Regions from separate parts of the Homo sapiens genome. Here regions 1, 3 and 4 are each linked to region 2. The links come from fine-mapping of genetic effects on gene expression. A gene starts in region 2. Each other region holds a variant in brackets. All regions are shown on one strand. Distances are between the middles of the regions. Region 1 overlaps SLC7A2 (solute carrier family 7 member 2). Region 2 holds the start of PDGFRL (platelet derived growth factor receptor like). Region 3 overlaps PDGFRL (platelet derived growth factor receptor like). Region 4 overlaps PDGFRL (platelet derived growth factor receptor like).

Region 1 (5,151 bases), 69 kb after region 2:
TTTGGATGTGTTTTCCTAGTAGAATGATTTCTATTCCTTTGGGTATATACCCCATGATGGGACTGCTGGGCCAAATGGTATTTCATTTCTGGCTCTAGATCCTTGAGGAATGGCCACACTGTCTTCCATCAAAAAGCGGGCAAAAGATATGAACAGACACTTATCAAAGGAAGACATTCATGCAGCCAACAAACATATGATAAAAAGCTCAACATCACTGATCATTAGAGAAATGCAAATCAAAACCACAATGAGATACCATATCACACCAGTCAGAATGGTGACTATTAACAAGTCAAGAAACAATAGATGCTGGCAAGGCTGTGGAGAAATAGGAACGCTTTTACACTGTTGGTGGGAATGTAAATTAGTTCAGCCATTGTGGACGACAGTGTGCCAATTCTACAGCTTTTTTTCCTAGTTATAGATATTCTCAACATTTTACTGTTTTTAAATACATAAGTATTGTCATTTATGTTATCAGTTAGGCAATTTTGACGTTTCTGCAGATACTTTCGTACACAAAAAAAGGCCAGCTCACTCTTTTATTATTATTATTATTATTATTATTTGTTTATTTTGAGACAGAGTCTTGCTCTGTCACCCAGGCTGGAGTGCAGCGGTGCTATCTTGGCTCACTGCAACCTCTGCCTCCCAGGTTCAAGCGATGCTCCTGCCTTGGCCCCCCAAGTAGCTGGGATTACAGTCGCCTGCTATCACGCCCGGCTAATTTTCGTACGTTTAGTAGAGACGTGGTTTCATCATGTTGTTCAGGCTGGTCTCAAACTCCTGATCTCAAGTGATCCACCTGCCTTGGCCTCCCAAAGTGCTGGGGTTACAGGCGTGAGCCACTGTACCGGGCTTCAATTCACTCTTACATAATGCACATACCAATGAAAAATAGGTAGATACAGTTCTGCTTGAAATGAAACACACAGGCTTCTTCCGAACCCAGAATTTCATGATTTACTAAAGCTATTCATACTGCATATCATGTCTTTAGAGACGTGGAAGATTCCATTCAGCAAATAATTTCAGTAGCTGTTTTAGTGAAATGAACACTGGAAAAAGATTACTTTTCTCTACCATAAAACATTGTTCTGCATACATCACTTTGTTGGAGGCGAAAAAATAAAAATAAAAATGATTGCACTCTTGTTTCTCTTTTTATTGTACTTAATAATAATAAAGAAATTGTTGGGCGTGGTGGCTCCCGCCTGTCTTCCCAGCACTTTGGGAGGCCAAGGCGGGTGGATTACTTGAGGTCAGGAGTTCGGGACCAGCCTAGCCATCACGATGAAACCCTGTCTCTACTAAAAATACAAAAATTAGCCAGGTGTGGTGGTGGGCACCTGTAAACCCAGCTACTTGGGAGGGTGAGGCAGAAGAATCTCTTGAACCAGGGAGGCGGAGGTTGCAATGAGCCAAGATCACACCACTGCACTCCAACGGGCGACAGAGCGAAACTCTGTCTCAAAAGAAGAAGAAGAAGAATAAGGAAATTATACTTAGTTCAATAAAATGAGCACTTTTCTTCCAATTCTTGAAAATAGCCTGAATTCTGATTCATGGATACAAAGTTAGATTTCAGATTATATAGTTCAACTTTACTGATTTCTCTGGTCCAATATGCAATGCATTAAAATGACATGATGAAGGAAAGGCCCATTCTTTAAACAGATGACTCGAACTTTCAATTACAGTTGGTACCAACAACTACAGCTGATGTCTACAGTCCCCACTCCTAGAGCTGCCTCCACTTTAGTAATATCATTCGCCTGCCTTACACCACCAGCATCTCCAACTTTCACCAACACACGCCACAGGAGCTCACCACCAAAAGGCGGCAACGATCAATCAACTGAAAGTAAAACAAAATTAAAAATAAAAATTCAACTCTACTAAATACTTCAAAAACTGAGAGAAATAATGTGGGTCCTCAGGGTTTTTAAAATCCTTATAAAAACTAATATATTAACATACTACCATTACTAGTGGTTCGGTGAGATAAATCAGGCTTTCAATCTTCAGCCACTTGACCAATTTATCTTTTTTATTATTTGTTTATTTTTATTTTTATTTTTTTTGAGACAGAGTCTTGCTCTGTCTCGCAGGCTGGAGTGGTCTCGCCTCACTGTAACCTCCATCTCCCAGGTTCAAATGATTCTCATACCGCAGCCTCCTGAGCAGATAGGATTACAGGTGCCCACCACCACACCCAGCTAATTTTTGTATTTTTAGTAGAGATGTGGTTTCGCCATGTTGGCCAGGCTGGTCTTGAACTCCTGATCTCAGGTGATCTGCCTGCCTTGGCCTCCCAAAGTGCTGGGATTACAGGCATGAGCCACTGTGCCCGGCTCAATTGATCATTTTTAAAAGTAGACAGGGCATCCAACAATACCTAGAGTTAGCAATGCAGGAAGAATACAAAAATATTTTACATAATTTATAAGAGTAACAATAAGGTTGTTTGTCCTTCACATTTCTCTTGTACTCTGTAGCAAAAAAGACCAGAATAATGTAAATATGTTATTCATTATTCAAAAAGTTCATGTGATCCATTTCAGTAGAGAAAAAATGCACTATCAACAGGAATTTTCTGCCAAGTCTGCTCTTTTTTTGTTTGGTTCACTGAACTAAGTGCAAACCATCTGTTATCTATGATAATCAGAAAAAGTAAAAAATTCAAATAGCTTTTTTTTTTAAAAAAAAAGAGAGCACAATAGCACTCCAAACAGAACATACTTGTTTAAAAGCACCATTTATGAGGTTGAAACCCTAATGACTTTAAAAGTCTTTTTATTTTTAGATTAAGACTATATTTTCCCATTTTCTGGTAAAAGTATGCCATTTAATAAACTTGTTCATATCATAAGAATGTCACTCTACGAAAA[T/C]AGCTTATCCAAATATATTAATTTCCAAGAAATTTCAAAATCTAAAAACTTCCTTTTCCACTCTTCCTGTAACACTTATTTCTAAATGCACTTCATCAGCTTCAAATATCTCTTTGAAAAATAATTTAATAGCTCATCATGAAATCTTTAGGGCATATTTCTATTACATGTTATTGTTAAATTAACAGAGTTTTTAAAATTTACTCATTTGTATTTTTTCTTTTTTCACTGACATGTAATAATTGTACATATTTATAGGACACAGAATATTTCAATATGTATATACTATAAGCAATGATCAAATAAGGGTAATTTGCATATCCATCACTTCAAATATTTTTCATCTCTTTGCATTGTGGATGTTCAAAATCCTTTCTTCAAAAAATTTAAAAAGGCCAGGTACAGTGGCTTATGCCTATAATTCCTGCACTTTGGGAGGCCAAGGCGAGAAGATCATTTGAGGCCAGGAGTTCAAAACCAGCCTGGGCAACACAGTGAGACCCCCGTCTCCACACACACAAAAATAATAATAATGCACACACACACACACATTTAAATAGTTTCCAGCTTTTTAAAATTATATAATAAATTATAGTTAACCATTAAAATCTAAAAATGTTAAGTTGTAATTGTACTGATCCCCAATTTAAAAATTCCACATAGGCCAGACACAGTGGCTCACGCCTGTAATCGCAGCACTTTGTGGGGCCGAAGCGGGTGGATCACAAGGTCAGCAGATCAAGACCATCCTGGCCAACATAGTAAAACCCCATCTCTACTAAAATACAAAAAAAATTAGCCAGGCATGGTGGTGCCCGCCTATGGTCCCAGCTACCTGGGAGGCTGAGGCAGGGGAATCGCTTGAACCTGGGAGGTGGAGGTTGCAGTGAGCCAAGATTGCACCATTGCACTCCAGCCTGGCAACAGAGTGAGAGTCTGCCTCAAAAAAAAAAAAAAAAATTCCACAAATAAGTAGTGCATTCTAGTAATTATTATTTGTTTTCACAAAAACAGAATGGTCTGATTTTTCAACATGCTTGGACTCTAGTCTTCACTCTACCCCTAGCTGTCTAACCTCACATGAGCCGAGATTGCGCCACTGCACTCCAGACAGGCAACAAAGCAAGAGTCTGTCTCAAAAAAAAAAATTCCACAGAAGTAGTGCATTCTAGTAATTATTATTTGTTTTCACAAAAACAGAATGGTCTGACTTTTCAATATGCTTGGACTCCAGTCTTCACTGTATCCCTAGCTGTCTAACCTCAGATGAGTTACACCTCTCAAGATCTCAGTCTCTTAACCTATAAAAAGAGCGTTCTAAAATGTCATTCTGAGGCACTTACTTCTCTTCCATATTCGTCTAGCACCGTGCCAGAAACTTGATAACTGTCCACGGCGAGGGAGGCTAGAAAGGAACGTGTCCAAAGCCTCTGAAATTTCGCACAGGACAGTTTTAAATGTACTGTGAAGTTTACGCTTTAAAATACAAAACCAACTACCACAACAGTGTCTCACCATTTTTATAGTGATATAACCAAATGAATTTCCAGGACACCTAGACTTATTCATGTTATCAATCCTCTTTAAAGAAAATAGTGATTTTTGTTATAAAAATGAAATTCTGCTAAGTTTCAAGAGAGTTTAAAGCAGGCACCAGCCCAGCACTTGTTTTCACAGCTCTAGTACTACAAATTTTATCAACACCCACTATTGTCTCTGAATGGCATGTAAAAGTGCTCTGTGCTATGTTCTTGATGAATTGTACAGACACAAGTCCTACTCCACCTACACAACCACTATGCCACAAATGCAACGCATTTAAAAGAGGGCTTTCTTTTGCAATAAAACATTACAAATCCTAACTACAAGTAAAGCAAGTGTTGCAAGAGATAATTTTTCAGTAGCTAAATCAGCATTAAAATTCCTCACTTCGTCTCAATATTATACCTTAAGCATGTTATTAAACAAACATTAACTGTAAAAGGAAACGCTATGGGTTAGTTATTTTACATTGTAAAAACTGATAAGGCCCTGCAAGGATGCTTCCACTGGTCTTTAGTATGATTCAGTTCTACTCAACTGTAAGTTTATTAAATCTCAGAGATTTCTACAAGAATATCCGTATCAGACTGACATTGAACTGGCAAGATTAGATTTCAAATGTCACACTAAAGATGCTCCAATTTTAGATAAGAAAAGAGGGCACTGACTATGCTTACCCATTTTTTTTCTGTTTATGTCAGACATTTACAAATAC
Region 2 (5,151 bases):
CTCTCAGACAATAATGAATGTCTGTAGTCCTCCAAGAAAGAAACCCCTTTCACCAGATGCAAAATAAACCCAGGTTACTGAAGACCAGATTAGCATGGATCAAGGATCTCATGTTATTCAACAGAACTCGTTGCACAAATCAATATTAACACTTCAGTGTTTGCTCCTGACATTCAATAAAAATATGTAGGTAATCAAAAGTCAGGAAATATTTGTGATTTTATACTTTTCAATGTGAAAATAGAAGCACCCTATTAATAAACTCGGTGGCATGTATTCCATATAAATGCTGAAAATCAGGTGCTATGATTGACATCTCAACGTGGAATCTTGGATTATTTATTACCTGTTTTCATCCCTCAGTTTCATGCCATGAAGTATTATGTGCCTTTCCAGCTCCCCATCTTCATGAGGAGAAAGAACATTACTTCCAAAAATTTAAAGCATTTTGTCATTGGGAGCAGCCAGCTTCATTGGGTCACAGGCCAGATGTTCACCCCCATACACACTTGCAGGGAAGTCTTTTCCTCTTAGAAGGCTGTCTTTGGCTAGTTGTGGTGGCTAGCACAAGTGGAAGTCGCAGTGAGCTAAGATTGTGCCACTGCACTCCACCTGGGTGACATAGCAAGACTCCATCTCAATAATAATAATAATAATAATAATAATAACAATAATAATAAAATAATAATAAAGACTGTCTTTTAGATGTGATCAGAAAAACTAAAAGGCAGTGAAACAAGTTGAGTCATGGACCTTGTGTCTGTAATTTGTGCTTTGGGATGGCCTTGAAGGCAGGATATTCCCAACCTGCCAATCTGAGACCAGCACTGGAAGGGCCTCCTGTGTAATCCACTCTCCTTAGTAGCTCCTGGCCACAACTCACAACACAACTCAAAACCAAAAACCATTCTTAATAGGTTTAGCCAAACGGTTACATAACTTAATGAAGCACTGTGTGTTCACTATTGTATCCATAAATAGTCCATACATTATAGATATGTGTGCTTTTATTTTTATCTTTATTTTCTTGAGATGGAGTCTCACTTTGTCGCCCAGCTGGAGTGCAGTGGTGCGATCTCGGCTCACTGCAACCTCTGCCTCCCAGGTTCAAGCAGTTCTCTGCCTCACCCTCCCAAGTAGCTGGGATTACACGTGCCCACCACCACGCCCGGCTAATTTTTATATTTTTAGTAGAGACGGGGTTTCACCATCTTGGCCAGGCTGGTCTTGAACTCCTGACCTTGTGATCCACCTGCCTTGGCCTCCCAAAGTGCTGGGATTACAGGCATGAGCCACTGTGCCCGGCCAGATGTGTGTACTTTTATAAACAAAATCTTCGTGCTATTATCACCTAAAATTTATGAACTATTTCTTACATTCAGTCTGTATTCCACTTTCTCCAATTGTCTCATAAATGCTTATTGTTTGTATGGATTACACTTAAAGAAAGGGTAAATTTAGTCAGATGTTTGTAATAAACTCACATGGGCTGGGTGAGATCCAGGAGGCAGAATGGAAGTCAATTTCTGAGCCTCTAAGACTGGCAAGTTGGGTATAAACAAAGGAATGGCTGATTTGAAATTATTTTGCCTGGCCATCTCCTGCCCTATTCAAAAAATGATACTACAAATTACATTTCTGCCTTTTCAGCGGTTGCACACAAGGGCCTGCCAGGAGCATTTTAATATTGCATTTTACAAACTGAACTCATGGCAACTTCTCTCTGGGCAGAGTTAAGTGTTACTCTCCCAGTAGAAGCTCTGCCTACGTTTTATTAAGCAAAGCTCTAGGCTGAAGGACCCTCATGCTCAACTTCAAGTACCACGACTATCTTGGATTTTGCAAACTACAATGCGGTATTTTTTTGGCAAATGTAGTTTCCTAGGAAAGAAAGGAACTGGTCAGGATGAACGAGTGGATAAAAATGTGAGCCAGGTCGAGCTGGCTCCAGCATGAAGTTGCATAACAGCAAAAGCTACTTTTCCACTAAATCTAAGCAAAAATTGTGTTGTAGCCCAGGAATTTCAAGAGAGGGTTGAGGACACCAGGAGGCACCCAGATGAAACATGTACTGTACAAATAACACCCATGGAGTGAATAGAGCAAACAAAACATTTAAATGCTAACAATAATATATAATACACACCACAGTAATACACACACCCAGACACACAGAAAAATAACACCAGACCCTGTGGTCACGGGTGTACACGACAGGGTGGACCCAGGACAGGTACACATTCAAAAACGCGCAGCGGTCATGGTCCCATAAGCTGTACCAAAAAAATGCATTTTCTTCACCATTTCCCATCCAATTAGATAAATATAATAAGCCGTGGGCTTTTGATTCGTTTTGAAGTTTCATACACTGACATTTTTGTTCGAAGATCTAGGCAGATCTTGCAGGATTCAAGCAAAAGGTGGTAGACGAAAACACGCCCAGAACTGCGAGGGGAGGGGGAGGTCACCTGGAACTCTGCAACCGAATCAGCGATTGCCGAGCTTAGGTGGCACTCGCTCTCAGCAGCAGAGGTCCCAGCCACGCCGCTGGGAGGTGGAAGCGATCCGAGGCTCCCGCCCCACCTCCCAGACCGACACGTTGACACTGGGGGCTGGACCAGGCGCTGGCTGGGGATGCTTGGTTCGCCCGGAGATGGGGACTTGGAGAGGTCCTGGTGGGCTCCTAAGGGTCGGGGTAGCTGCCACCACCCCTAGAGGGCTCTCCGGGCAGGCAAAGAGTGGGAGGAAAGGAGACCCCACCAGGAGGGGGCAGGTGCACCGGGCAGGCAGTGGCGCGGGGGCTGAGCCACCGAGGGCCGAACGTTAGACCAAGAGCTGGCAGGAGGGCGGCGGGGGCTTCGGGTCCCGGCTAAAGTCAGGGCACAAGCTAGGTGGCCCCGCGCCCAGAGTCACTCACCATCCTCCAGCGCTTCGTGCACCAGCAGAAGACCAAGCAGCAGCCAGACCTTCATCTCGGGAACCTCGGACCTCGGAGCGCAGGAGCGCGGCGGCTGCGCGGGGCGGGGACGCAGGGGAGGCGGCGGGCGAGGGGCGGGCTCCTGGGACGCCGAAGCGGGAGGATTCGGTTTCTTCAGGAGGAACAAGGTTTGGGGGAAAAAGTTGGGGAATTTTTTTTTTTTTTAGTTCTCTGTGTAATGTGACTTCTCCTGCCCCCTGGCGGAGCCGCGGTGCGCAGCACTTCTTCCCAGCGCGGGGAGGAAAGGCTAAGCGTGAAATGTACATTACAACAGCCATTCCTTGAATTTCTCCAACGCTTGGCGTTTTCACCAAGGTTATCAAGTTCAAGAAGGATCAGCGGGTGCTGATGGGGTCACTTTTAACCACGATTGTCCAAATGTTACCAGCGCCCGCCCCACCTCCTCAGGCAGAACCTGAGTGCTCTGTAAAAAGTGCTTCCTAAATTATTTCTGTTCATTCCATTTCTCTCCCCCACATGCACTCACTCACAGGACCGTTGCCCCGGGTTCTTGCTGCTCCTCTGTGTCTGGCCAGAGTTGGTCTCCGCACCCAGCCCTGTAACTGCTGGTGGGGGTGGGAGGACGGGTTCATTACAGGAATAACGTGGAAAATGAGACTGTGCAGACAACCCGGGCCTCTGGTGGTGAGGCAGGAGAACAGGGAATTAGGGTAAGCACGGGCTAGGGTATGAGCAGGAGAACAGCAGGTGCAGCCAGTTCGCAGAAGCAAAAGATCAGCAGGTGCAGACAGTTCTAGGCATGATTAGGCGGCACACAGGCCACATCCTCGCTCCTCTGATAACAAGGCAGAAGTTTCCACTTCAGCCTCGGACTGGTCGCAGGCCAGTCCTTCGTAAGGTGTAACCAGTTGGAGGCCTCTAAAGGGAACCCAAGGGTGTTGCCAAGTTCTTTTCGCTTTATAAAATCCCTGGGGAGCGTCAGGCTCTTGTGGCTTGCTGCAGCGCCCTCTGTGAATTGTCTTCTATAAATCTACGTTTTCCTTCCTCCCTTCTGTTGCTTTGTTTTTCCTTGCTTCTTTCTTTCGTTACTCCGTGCATTTCGTTCAATTTTTTGTTCAACAGGCCAAGAACCTGGACAACTCTATCAGGTAACAGTGGGGCAGAAGATACGGGCTTTCACAAGTCCCTCTGCAGAGAGCCATCCTGCGTTTCTGAGCTTGCAGACTCTCATGATCAAAGCAGTTTGCTAGCGGGGGAGATGCCTGTGTGTGTTCCCCCGGTGAGAAGCAGCCCATCTCATTGTAATCTTCAGCACCAGGCACTGCTATTAAAGGGAGCTCAATTCTAAATAACAGGAAAGGGACTTGTCCCTCAACACCCAACGAAAGAAGTGCTGCCATTTATAACAAACTAATGCTTCTCAGTCACTTCTGCAGGAGGAACCAAGAATTCTATATTCTGTTGCCAGCTCTAGCCGGAGCTTTGCCACTCGCTTGCCTTGCGATGCAGAGAGCAGTTGGCTGGGAATAAAGACCAGAGTTCAGATGCTGACACTGGCACAAACTCTCCATGCCTCTCAGAATTCACTTAACCTTCTGGGTTTTAGCATCTCTTGTTTATTAAGAAAGGGAACTAGGTGATTATTTCAACAGGAGTTTGCTATGTGATTAACATTACGGCTATGAAGGTTGAGACATCATCTCTCATGGCTACTTTTAAGGAGTGAACAAGCATTTAGACCACTGCAATGTGGTGTGTCAGGTTCTGGGGAGAATTCTGAGCAAAGGACTTGGAGCATGCACACAGGAGAGAGTAAATCTGCCTAAATTGCCCCACCGTGAGATTTCTTTTCATTCTGACCCCATGAATTGACTGCTTAACTCTCACTCCATGTTGGAGCCTGGGGTTGGGTCTAGATTCCTCCTCTCGGTCGCAGTATCCCCTCCATGCTGACTATGCATGTGCCAGGTCCACCTCTCTTGTGCCATTATTGTCAAGCTTCACTGCCCTGGCTCAGCTACATTTAGCCGAGAGTCGTCCCTCTTTCTCTTGCCGCTTAGAGGCTCTTCTTGGGGGGCTGAGGCGAGAGAGTCATTTGAGCCTGGGAAGCGAGGTTGCAGTGAGCTGAGATGGCACCACTGCACTCCAGCCTGGGCGACAGAGAGAGACTGTCTCAAAATAAATAAATAATAAATAAATAAATAAAAGCAAAG
Region 3 (5,151 bases), 52 kb before region 2:
CTGGGCAACAGAGCCAAGACTCTGTATTAAAAAAAAAAAAAATCAGCTACAGTGTGGAAAATGGAGTGGAGAAAGAAAAGGTGGACATAGGGGAAATGAGAAGGTATTCACATAAGTCTAGGGCAGAGACAATGCTAGCTTGATCCCTTTTTTGCAGTGAGGATGGAGAGAAACAGTAGGATTTGAAAGTGATTTAATGAAAAAAGTAGAAAGGATCGGGAGGAGGAGGGAGGTTAGCTTGGCTTCCAGCCGCAGGCCTGACCCGTGGGTGAAGGTAGTGCCATCACCAAGGCAGAGGAGGAGGAAGAACCAGGTCCAGGGAGGATGGCACTGAGGCCAGGGATGGCACGCGGAGGATGGAGGACCCCGAAGCATCTCATTGCACACCTGAGGTGGACGGCGGACACGTGGACCTGATGCTCCTAGATCCGGCCACTTCCGTTCACTTGGGAGTTACCAGTGTACAGATGTGAAGCTGGCCCAGGGACAGAACAAGGAGTGGGAAAGAAGGGTGCCTGGGGGAGCACCAGCATTTCAAAGTTGATAGAAGGCTAAGAGCTGACCAAGAAGAGTGAGAAAGCTGTGGGGGAGGTGGGGGAAGCTGGGAAAAATGGAGCCAGGGCAGAGGCTGTTCCCTGCAGGTGAGGTGGAATCCAGGAGGACAGGGACAGACTTTAATGGCATGGGGGTCCCCGAGTACCTTGGCAATAGCCGTTTTGGTGGAAGTCAAGGGAGAAGGCCAGATGGGAGTGGGCAAAGGAGTGTGTGGGAGGAAAGGAAGTGGAGAGGGACATGGAGAGCTCTTTCATTCAGGGACTTGGTTCTAGTGGGGAAGAGTGGTGGGCTCAGCAAAACACTGGGGGAGGTGGAGCAGGGCTGTGAGAGGGATTTGGTAACAGGGTGTAAGGGGCATGGCCTGCTGAATAAGCACCATGGCTGAGAACACGAGGCATGACAGAACCCAAATTCTAACTTCAGAGAGCAGCTCACTCTCGGGGCTACTGATCCCCCCGACAGGGTGGCTGAGAAGCTCCACTGCAGGGGATGGACTCTGCCCACACGTACCACTCTCCCCTGGTCAAGGTGAGAGTTCTCGGAGAGACTAAAGTCACCTTTGAGGGACTACAGTGCCAGAAGAGAAACTATTTCCCCTCCTCCCTTGCAAGGCTGGCAAGAGGGTGCTTCACTCCAGAAAGGCGAGGGAGCGGCCTCAGAGAACTGCTTGCCAAGGAATGTGGGGGGTGTTGCAGCGTTCTGCAACGCAACTGCTCCTAGCCTGCCCCTATGCCATCAGCCCGGGGCAAAAGAGCTCTGGACAAGATGGCAGGGTGGGGGACTTCGAGAAGTAAAGAGGGCCCAGACTGTGTCTCCACTGTATGTTCTGGTGGCCACGTGCTCTGGAGTCAGGTGATCAGGTAGACACAGAGATGTCAGGACTCCAGGCTCTTTCAGCCATGCTGCAGCTCAGAGCAAAGAAGTTCATACAAGCAGAGGCAGCCTCCAGCTGAGGGTCCAGGAGAAGGCGAGGCTGCATGGGACAGGGCCTAGGACACCAAGGGGGCTTGTGACAGGTGAGTCCCTATCACCTGTGACAAACCACTGGAGTCACTATCTGTTCCCATCAGGCTAACAGACAACAAGCCAGGTCAGCATTTATTACCAGGGACTGCCAGCTCTCACTTACTTCCTCTGACCTCTCTCACTTACTTCCCCTAACCTGGTGCCCCAGCAGGGAGGGGAGGGGAGGGGAGGGGAGCGGAGGGAACTGTGGCCTCCGACTCAGAGCTGCTGCACTCACCATGGAGCCTGCATGTGACAGGAAGAGCAGAAAGCAGGCTTGGATGAATTGTTGGGACTGAAGATTTTAAACAAACAGTCTTAGAAACCAGAATGAGGCTGTCTTACTCACCCAGCAAGCCTGTTGGATATCAAAGGGAAACTCGACATGACCAACAGATCTCCCTACCCTCAGGAAAAGGGGGATTCAACACAATGGAACGGATGGCAGTTACCAGGGAAAAAAGTATTTCATGTATAAATGCTATGAAATGAAACTCCTCACTAAAATGGCCACATTGAAAGAAGTAGTTCCAATTTTAATTGAGAGACTGATCATGTTTCAGTTCTGTCAAGAGTAAGGGAGTAAGGCCAACTGGAAGAGAATGAGGCGGGAATTTGAGAACTCCAAGTGTTCTGTGCACATTGGGGAAAACAGAAGAAAGACGGGACAAAATGCAGAGGACACCAGGCAGGGTAGACGAGAGATGGGGGATTCATGGCCATGCCCTCTACCCTCCCATGGGAGTGTCCCAACAGCTCTTAACTCTCTGAGTACAGGCATGGGGAGAAGGTTAGTTGTGTTCATCCGGGGTGGTTCTTTCCTGGACAGGAGAGGGGAGTACAGAGAGGAGGGCGTGCCGGGTGTGGGTAGTGAGTACTGATGTGGTGGGACCCAGGATCTAAGCCTCATGGGTGGGGAGGGCAGAAAGCCCTCAAGAACAGGGTGGGTGCAGGTGAGGACTGTGGCTGAGGGAGTCATTGAACACAGAATCCTGGGAAAGTACAAGCCTGTGTCACTGGAGCTGGGGTCAGCCCCGGTGGTTGCTGTCACAGTGGTTGTGGTTGACATGTTCACATTGTGATGAGGGTGGGAATATCTGAGGTGGAACGGATGAGGGGTCCATGAACCTGGCCAGTGGGTACCAAGTCG[A/G]TATCAAAGTCACCCTAAAAATGGAGTGACAAGCAGGGCCATGAACCAAGTGCCAAAATGTTCGATGAATGCATGGGAGTGACAGGAAAGGAAATGAGAATGCTGGTAGAGCCCCCAAAGAGCAGAGGTTCCCAACAGAAGGGCAGAGAATGAGGGTTGGCAGGTGGCAATGGGTACAAGAAGGATGCCAGCCTTGACGTGGGAATGAATGATGTCCTTAGGAGACAGCAGATTTGGGTTTAGACCAAGAGGCTGGGAGGATGCTCTAAAGGAGTTTGGGGACATAGAAGACCTGATCCAACACAGAGGCAGCACCAGAGTGAACGATGGAAGGATTTGGCTGGAATGGAGAAGAGGGGTTTTCGGTCAGGGTCATAACAAGGAAGGAGAACATCCATCCTAGAAGTGGTGGGGCAGAAGGGAAGCCTTTAAGAACGGCATAAGTGGGCCGAGCATGGTGGCTCACACTTGTAATCTCGGCACTCTGGGAAGCTAAGATCAAAGGATTGTTTAAGCCCAGGAGGTCGAGACCAGCCCAGGCAAGGTAGGGAGACCTCTTCTCTATGAGACAAAAAAAAAAAAAAAAAAAAGTTAGCAGGGCATGGTGGCTCATACCTGTGGTTCCAGCTACTCAGGAGGCTAAGGAGGGAGGGTTGCTTGAGCCCAGGGCTTTAATGCTGCAGTGAGAAAATGGTTGTGCCACTGCATTCCAGCCTGGGCAACAAAACGGGACCCTGTCTCAAGAAAAAAGAGAAAAAAAAACAACAACAACCCAACAACAATGAAACAAAAGGCACTCATGGAGCTTCCTTATTCCATCTGCAGGCAGGGAACAGCAGTACCTGAAACTGACCAGGGGACTAACTAGAATCTAGGCAGGGGTGGCCAGGCTTACCCGCCACATAGAGCAGCTGGTACTTGACGGAGATCTGAGATCTGCCCCCGGCCTCCGCCCTGCAGTAAACCACACCCTGGTGCTCGGAATGAGGTTGCAGATACACAAAGCCCCGCTTCATGTCATAAACAATGTCCGTTCCATTGGCTGGGATCTCCTTGGCTGGGAATTCCCTGTGGAGCGTGACTTTGGCCGACAGCACGGTCACCCGACAAGGAACCACAGCCTGTCTGTCCGGGTTCAAGTAGACAACATCGAAGTAGCTGGGAGAAGGTACAAAGAGTTCTCCTTTCTCTGCAAAGGGAAGGAAGACACAGGCTTATTCACTCCGGAGACGCAAAGTAAAAGCACCCTTAAGGATTTTGGCAGCATACTCTGAATACTGAGTCCTTAGGAGTAGGAAAGGCCGGGTTTTCTTTTTTTACTTTAATGCTTTTCATTTTTTGGAAGAATGATTTAACTTCCTGTCTCCTTAAAGAAAACAGAAGGCTGGGCGCGGTAGCTCACACCTGTAATCCCAGCACTTTGGGAGGCTGAGGCGGGCAGATCACGAGGTCAGGAGATCGAGACCATCCTGGCTAACACGGTGAAACCCCATCTGTACTAAAAAAAACAAAAAATGAGCCGGGCATGGTGGCGGGCGCCTGTAGTCCCAGCTACTCGGGAGGCTGAGGCAGGAAAATGGCGTGAACCCGGGAGGCGGAGCTTGCAGTGAGCCGAGATAGCGCCACTGCACTCCAGCCTGGGCGACAGAGCCAGACTCCGTCTCAAAAAAAAAAAAAAAAAAAAAAGAAAGAAAGAAAACAGAAAAGGTATCAGTACAAGCCCAGATGACGCCCATGGATCACCACCATGAGGAAGCAAGGAACAAGATTTAAATTAAGATTTAACATATTAACCTTTAACAAGTTAAAGTTTAACATGCCCAGCCTTACTTCTTATACTATAATATATAGTTTGAAGTAAGTGACCACACTAGTTGCTTTAAAAATATATTTGCAATCTGGCCAGGCGTGGTGGCTCATGCCTGTAATCCTAGCACTTTGGGAGGCCGAGGCGGGTGGATCTCCTGAGCTCAGGAGTTCAAGACCAGCCTGGGCAACATGGTGAAACCCCGTCTCAACTAAAAATAAAAAAAAAAAAATTAGCTGAGTGTGGTGGTGCGCGCCTGTAGTCCCAGCTACATGGGAGGCTGAAGCATGAGAATTGCTTGAACCCAGGAGGCAGCAGAGGTTGCTGTGAGCTGAGATCATGCCACTGCACTCCAGCCTGGGCAACAGAGCAAGATTGCGTCTCAAAAAAAAAAAAAATTGCAATCGGTAGCTTCCATCAACAAAAAAATGTGTTAAAGCTCATTTGAATAATTATAGATTACATATGTCCCCTGAAAATGTATTTACATCCACTCATGTAGATGACACACGTATTACTTAAAGTAGACAAGCACATTGGATTTTAGATTTCCACAAAAAATCAAGCTAATAAGCTGTAAACTACATCCAAATTACAGCAAACTCAATATTTAGGAAAGCACTTACTAATGTGA
Region 4 (5,151 bases), 28 kb before region 2:
ATGCTATTTAGCGTGCATTCTCCTCAGCAGACCAACACTGAACTGAAGGCTGTGACACACTCGCTCTGGTCACCCCTCCGGCTCTTGTATGGGACAGTGCCTCCCTCTGCCTCCTTCCCCAGGATGCCTACCAGCTGATGTGATATATTGTGCCAATGCACGAGCCACCTGGGTAAATAAACGCATGAGGGCACGTTCAACATTGATTCACTTGTATCAATGTTGGTTGACTCACAGGGCCCCCAACCCCCTACCTTTTCCCAGCTATGAAGTCAAGTTCACAAACAACAGTGCTGTTACAGGGAAGGGTGAGCTGGTGCTTTCTGACCTCTGCTCCAATGTAACTGAGACACCAGATCTCATCTGGGATCTAGGCAGTGGGATGGAGAGAGAGGAGTGCTTTGGACAGTAGGATGTGGTCTGAAAGGCAGAGACCAGGGGCAAATCAGGATGAACTCCCAAAGGCAATCCAAGCAAAGTCTTTGAGCAGGAAGGCACCAAGCGAGGCAGGAGACAGGCCCCTGAGGCCCCAGGACAGAGTGGACAAGTTGGGAATGCAGGACGGGAAGTGACAAGAGAAGGTTCTGGGCGGACTCCCCAGGGCAGCAACTTAGCAGCTGCCCACCTGCAGCCGGCTGTGTGGGTGGGACGGAGCCGCCAAGGCAGCCAAGCCCGGACACTGGAGGCAAACCTCTGACATCTTCGTTTTGCTTTTTTATAAATGTGCCATTCTACACAATTATACACTAGTGGACATAAAATTTCCCATTTTACATCTTATCCTTTATTCCTCTTTTCTTGCTCCCTCCTTTGACATATCTTTCAAAGCTGTTTTATTTACATCTTCTATATTCAAATACTTGGCCAAAAATCATGCTACTAACACACCAGTGTTTACATTTGAGCATTAAATCCCAGACGTCACCCACATGTATACTTACTTGTTAAAGCAACATTTCACTCATAAAATACATGCAATCACTGGTACTATAAACAATGCTCCATCTTGCAAGATGCCCCAAAATTATCATCTAACATAGTTGGTGATATTCCTACAGTGTCTTTGGTTTAACGCACTAGCTTGACTGTATTGTCATTTTCTTACTGTATTTTAATTCTGTGCAACACATCTGGGATAATCAATCCTAGACTTACCAGAAATGCTCAAGAAATGAAATGTTTTGTTGAAAGAAACTTTTTTTGTTGTTTTTTTAAATACATATTTGGTGTAGGTAGAAACATTATTTTTAAGTAAGAGTTAGCAGAAGACGTTTTCCCCAAAACTATAGAACGTGCTTCAACCAATTTCCCCTACTCTAATGACTAGATCGACGAGCAATGGGTGATCTAGAGAACCTTGGGACCATTAGTATGAGCATCAGTGAGCCCTCCACAGTGCTATGGACACAAAGAGTTTGTAGGGGATTGAGACACACGTCTAAAACGTTTCTTAAAACGAAACTCGCAGGCCAAGGCAGGTGGATCACTTGAGGTCAGGAGTTTGAGACCAGCCTGGCCAACATGAGGAAACCCCATTTCCAATCAAAATACAAAAATTAGCAGGGCATGGTGGCATGCACCTGTAATCCCAGCTACTCAGGAGCCTGAGGCAGGAGAATTGCTTGAACCTGGGAGGTGGAGGTTGCAGTGAGCCCAGATTGCACCACTGCACTCCAGCCTGGGTGACAGAGCAAGACTCCGTCTCAAAAAAAAAAAAAAAAAAACAAAAAAACAAAAAACGAAAAACTGGCTGTTTCTTATGATTTACCTCCTTTGGGTACAGTATGGTGAACAGAAATAGCTCACCGATATTTAGGTGGCTTACTATGTGTGCCAAGAGGTTTACACGCATGACCTCATTCTATCCTGAGAACAGCACAATGAGCCTCGTTCTATTATTACCTGCCCCCCACCCTTGTCCTGAACGGAACATAGCTGTGTTTTTCTGCAAGCTGAACGCTCTCAGAACATTGAGTACACTGGGGGAAGTCTTGTATCCTGCAGCCTCCACCCAC[C/G]CATCTCTGGGGAAATACGGAGGGCCTGCAGCTGGTGCCAGTGAGTCTGGAAAGAGAACGCTCTACCTTCAGCATTGGTTAGGTCACCTATTTGTCATTTCTGGGGTGGAAGACCATTTGAAGGCAAGTATTAGAGTTTGGGGGTGGCGTTTCCTTTTGACTGGCCACTGCAAATTAGACCCCAATTGGACCCATGCTCCAGATAAGAATGAAGGCAAAGTGAGAGCCTCCTCATCTTCATTTGTTCTGCTCAGAAAATAAAATAAAACGAGCTTTGGAGGAAAGTGAGTTCGCATACAAAAGACACTCACATAATGATATGAATGCACTTAAGTGTACTGAACTATCTCCTTAAAAATGGTTAATATGGTAAATTGTACGTTCTGTGTATTTTCGAAAAATATAAATTATTTGAAAAAAAATACCTTACTCAGCATAACACCAGAGTACTCTCCACAACATTTACCAAAGTCTGTGCAGATTCTTTCTCAATGGTGGGATTCTTCTGTTGATAACCACTTAAGATATTTCTCCTTTTCTTTTAAAATGTCTTCCAGACTCTCCCTCCAGATGCTGGATGACATGATGAGCCTGGCTGGGAGCCCACTCTCTGCTCCATCGGCCCACCCTCCCTTTGTGTTGTCTGTGGGTGGAGTAAGCTGTTGCCAACCGTGGCCAAATGAAAAGCCCGATGCCCTCCCTTCTCTCTAAAAGCTATTTATTGTTTTCCGAGGAGCCAGCCATCAAAGAGATCTCCTGTGCCCCACGCACTCCTCCCAACTCCCAGTTTTTGACTGAAAAAATGCTAACATCCGACCAGATACCAGAAAAACATCCTGAAAGACAATGCCTGGACTCTTATTTCCTAGGGAGCAGGACCAGGGCTTATTACCACATCAGCCTATCTTGTTTTTACTGCTGTGATGTTGCTGACAACATAGCTGAAATCTCCAACGTCTCCTTGTTCCTACCAGCATTGATTGGTTATATTTAAGCCTTCGTCCAGACCCACTTATTCTCCGTTTCATCTCATTTTCTTCCCTGGCTCAGCGCGGTGCCAAGAATTCTCTGGCTTTACACCCTGGAAGTGTGTTATGATGAGATTCAAGAAACAAAATGTGTGCAGAGAAGATGCAAATGGGTCACGTTGATCTCCCAGCAGGGGTTATTCAGATAATCCAGAATATTCTTACACAAAGTTTTTAATATTATCAACAAAATGCAAGAAAAAATTTAAAAAATTATTGCAAAAAAGCATGAGGTCCAAGAACACATCTAAAGACCCCAGTTGGAGTGAAATGGGTATGGGGCATGGGGAGGAAGGATGGAGGCAACTGACACAGGAAGAGACATTGTCTTTCTTCTGAAGGCAATGAGGACGGCTAACCCTCACAATGCGGTTTATATTACTCAGCATCTTCTTTCAGTCTCTCTCCCTCCTTCCTTCCCTCTCCCTGTCTCTCTCTCTCCCTTCTTTCATTCTTTCTGGGACAGAGTCTCACTCTGTTGCCCAAGCTGGAGCGCAGTGGCATGATCTCAGCTCACTGCAGCCTCCACCTCCCAGAGTCAAGCAATCCTCCCACCTCAGCCTCCCAGGTAGCTACGACTATAGGCACACGCCACCATGCTCTGCTAATTTGTGTATCTTTTTTCGTAGAGATGGGGTCTTGCCATGTTGCCCAAGCTGGTCTCAAACTCCTGAGCTCAAGTGATTCACCCGCCTCAGCCTCCCAAAGGGCTGGAATTACAGGCGTGAGCCACCATGCCCAGCCATGCATTTTCTTTGTATACATATTTAGAAAGGCTTTAAATCCTCGACTCATAATTGCCCTAAATTTTGCTCTAAATTTTTTTTAAATTTTATTATTATTATACTTTAAGTTTTAGAGTACATGTGCATGACGTGCAGGTTTGTTACATATGTATACATGTGCCATGCTGGTATGCTGCACCCATTAACTCGTCATTTAGCATTAGGTATATCTCCTAATGCTATCCCTCTCCCATCCCCCCACCCCACAACAGTCCCCGGTATGTGAAGTTCCCCTTCCTGTGTCCATGCATTCTCGTTGTTCAATTCCTACCTATGAGTGAGAACATGCAGTGTTTGGTTTTTTGTCCTTACGACAGTTTGCTGAGAATGATGGTTTCCAGCTTCATCCATGTCCCTACAAAGGACATGAACTCATCATTTTTCATGGCTGCATAGTATTCCATGGTGTATATGTGCCACATTTTCTTAATCCAGTCTATCGCTGTTGGATATTTAGGTTGGTTCCAAGTCTTTGCTATTGTGAATAGTGCCGCTATAAACATACGTGTGCATGTGTCTTTATAGCAGCATGATTTATAACTCTTTGGGTATATACCCAGTAATGGGATGGCTGGGTCAAATGGTATTTCTAGTTCTAGATCCCTGAGGAATCGCCACACTGACTTCCACAATGGTTGAACTAGTTTACAGTCCCACCAACAGTGTAAAAGTGTTCCTATTACTCCACATCCTCTCCAGCACTCTAAATTTCTTAATGTGGCCAACAAGGCCCTCCATGGTCTGCCTCACCTCCCATCATCATCTCTCCTCCTAACCTCCTTCCCACTCCCTCGCCTCTGACCGCCACATCTTACCCACCTGCCCTTCATGCTCCAAGTTTTATACTCTTTCCCACTTCTAGGTACTTCCTTCAAACACTTCTCTCTTTCTGGAATTTCCTTATATCTTGCTATGCCCTTCCTTACCCAGGGAACTTTCAAATATGAGCTTGAGTTTCCTCCTCCTTGACAGCATACTTCGGTTAGCAAGGCACTTGCTAACAGACTTTAATATTTTATTAAAATTGCTTATTTAATTGTCTTCCCTAAGATTAAAAGATCTATGGGATATAGAGATTTTATCTATTTTGCTCACCATCTTATCTCCATCATCTGCCTAGCAGAGACCACAAACATAGTAGATGCTTATGATAAAACAGTGGGAAGAAAGGAACAGGGCAGAGGAGTCAAGAAACAGAGTGTTCGACAAATGATAACTACTGTTGTCAGAAACAGTACCTTTGCTATTTCCGATCTCAAAGACAGGAGATGTTTATGGGATCTGGGATGGACTGAGTCTGGAGGTAAAACCTGAATCAATTTC

Evidence for each region. PIP is the estimated chance that this variant, and not a neighbour inherited with it, causes the effect.
Region 1: its variant is fine-mapped to the expression of PDGFRL in aorta (GTEx, PIP above 0.99).
Region 3: its variant is fine-mapped to the expression of PDGFRL in aorta (GTEx, PIP above 0.99).
Region 4: its variant is fine-mapped to the expression of PDGFRL in fibroblasts (GTEx, PIP above 0.99).

Annotation. Positions count from the first base shown.
Region 1 is chr8:17,505,650-17,510,800 of GRCh38, reverse strand. All of the region lies in intron 2 of SLC7A2 (solute carrier family 7 member 2), which reads right to left. Among named protein-coding and RNA genes, the nearest start is that of SLC7A2, 11 kb to the right of the region's middle. The variant T/C (reference allele first, on the strand shown) is at 2,895.
Region 2 is chr8:17,575,074-17,580,224 of GRCh38, reverse strand. It overlaps PDGFRL (platelet derived growth factor receptor like), which reads right to left and starts at 3,009. Exons shown (of 6, transcript NM_001372073.1): 1 at 2,918-3,009. The coding sequence starts at 2,972. RefSeq lists silencers at 2,604-2,653, 2,744-2,803.
Region 3 is chr8:17,627,235-17,632,385 of GRCh38, reverse strand. It overlaps PDGFRL (platelet derived growth factor receptor like), which reads right to left. Exons shown (of 6, transcript NM_001372073.1): 4 at 3,606-3,899. Among named protein-coding and RNA genes, the nearest start is that of MIR548V, 52 kb to the left of the region's middle. The variant A/G (reference allele first, on the strand shown) is at 2,711.
Region 4 is chr8:17,603,468-17,608,618 of GRCh38, reverse strand. The region is part of intron 2 of PDGFRL (platelet derived growth factor receptor like); the gene reads right to left. It overlaps LOC107986919 (a long non-coding RNA gene), which reads left to right. Exons shown (of 2, transcript XR_001745819.2): 2 at 2,573-2,973. Among named protein-coding and RNA genes, the nearest start is that of PDGFRL, 29 kb to the right of the region's middle. The variant C/G (reference allele first, on the strand shown) is at 2,016.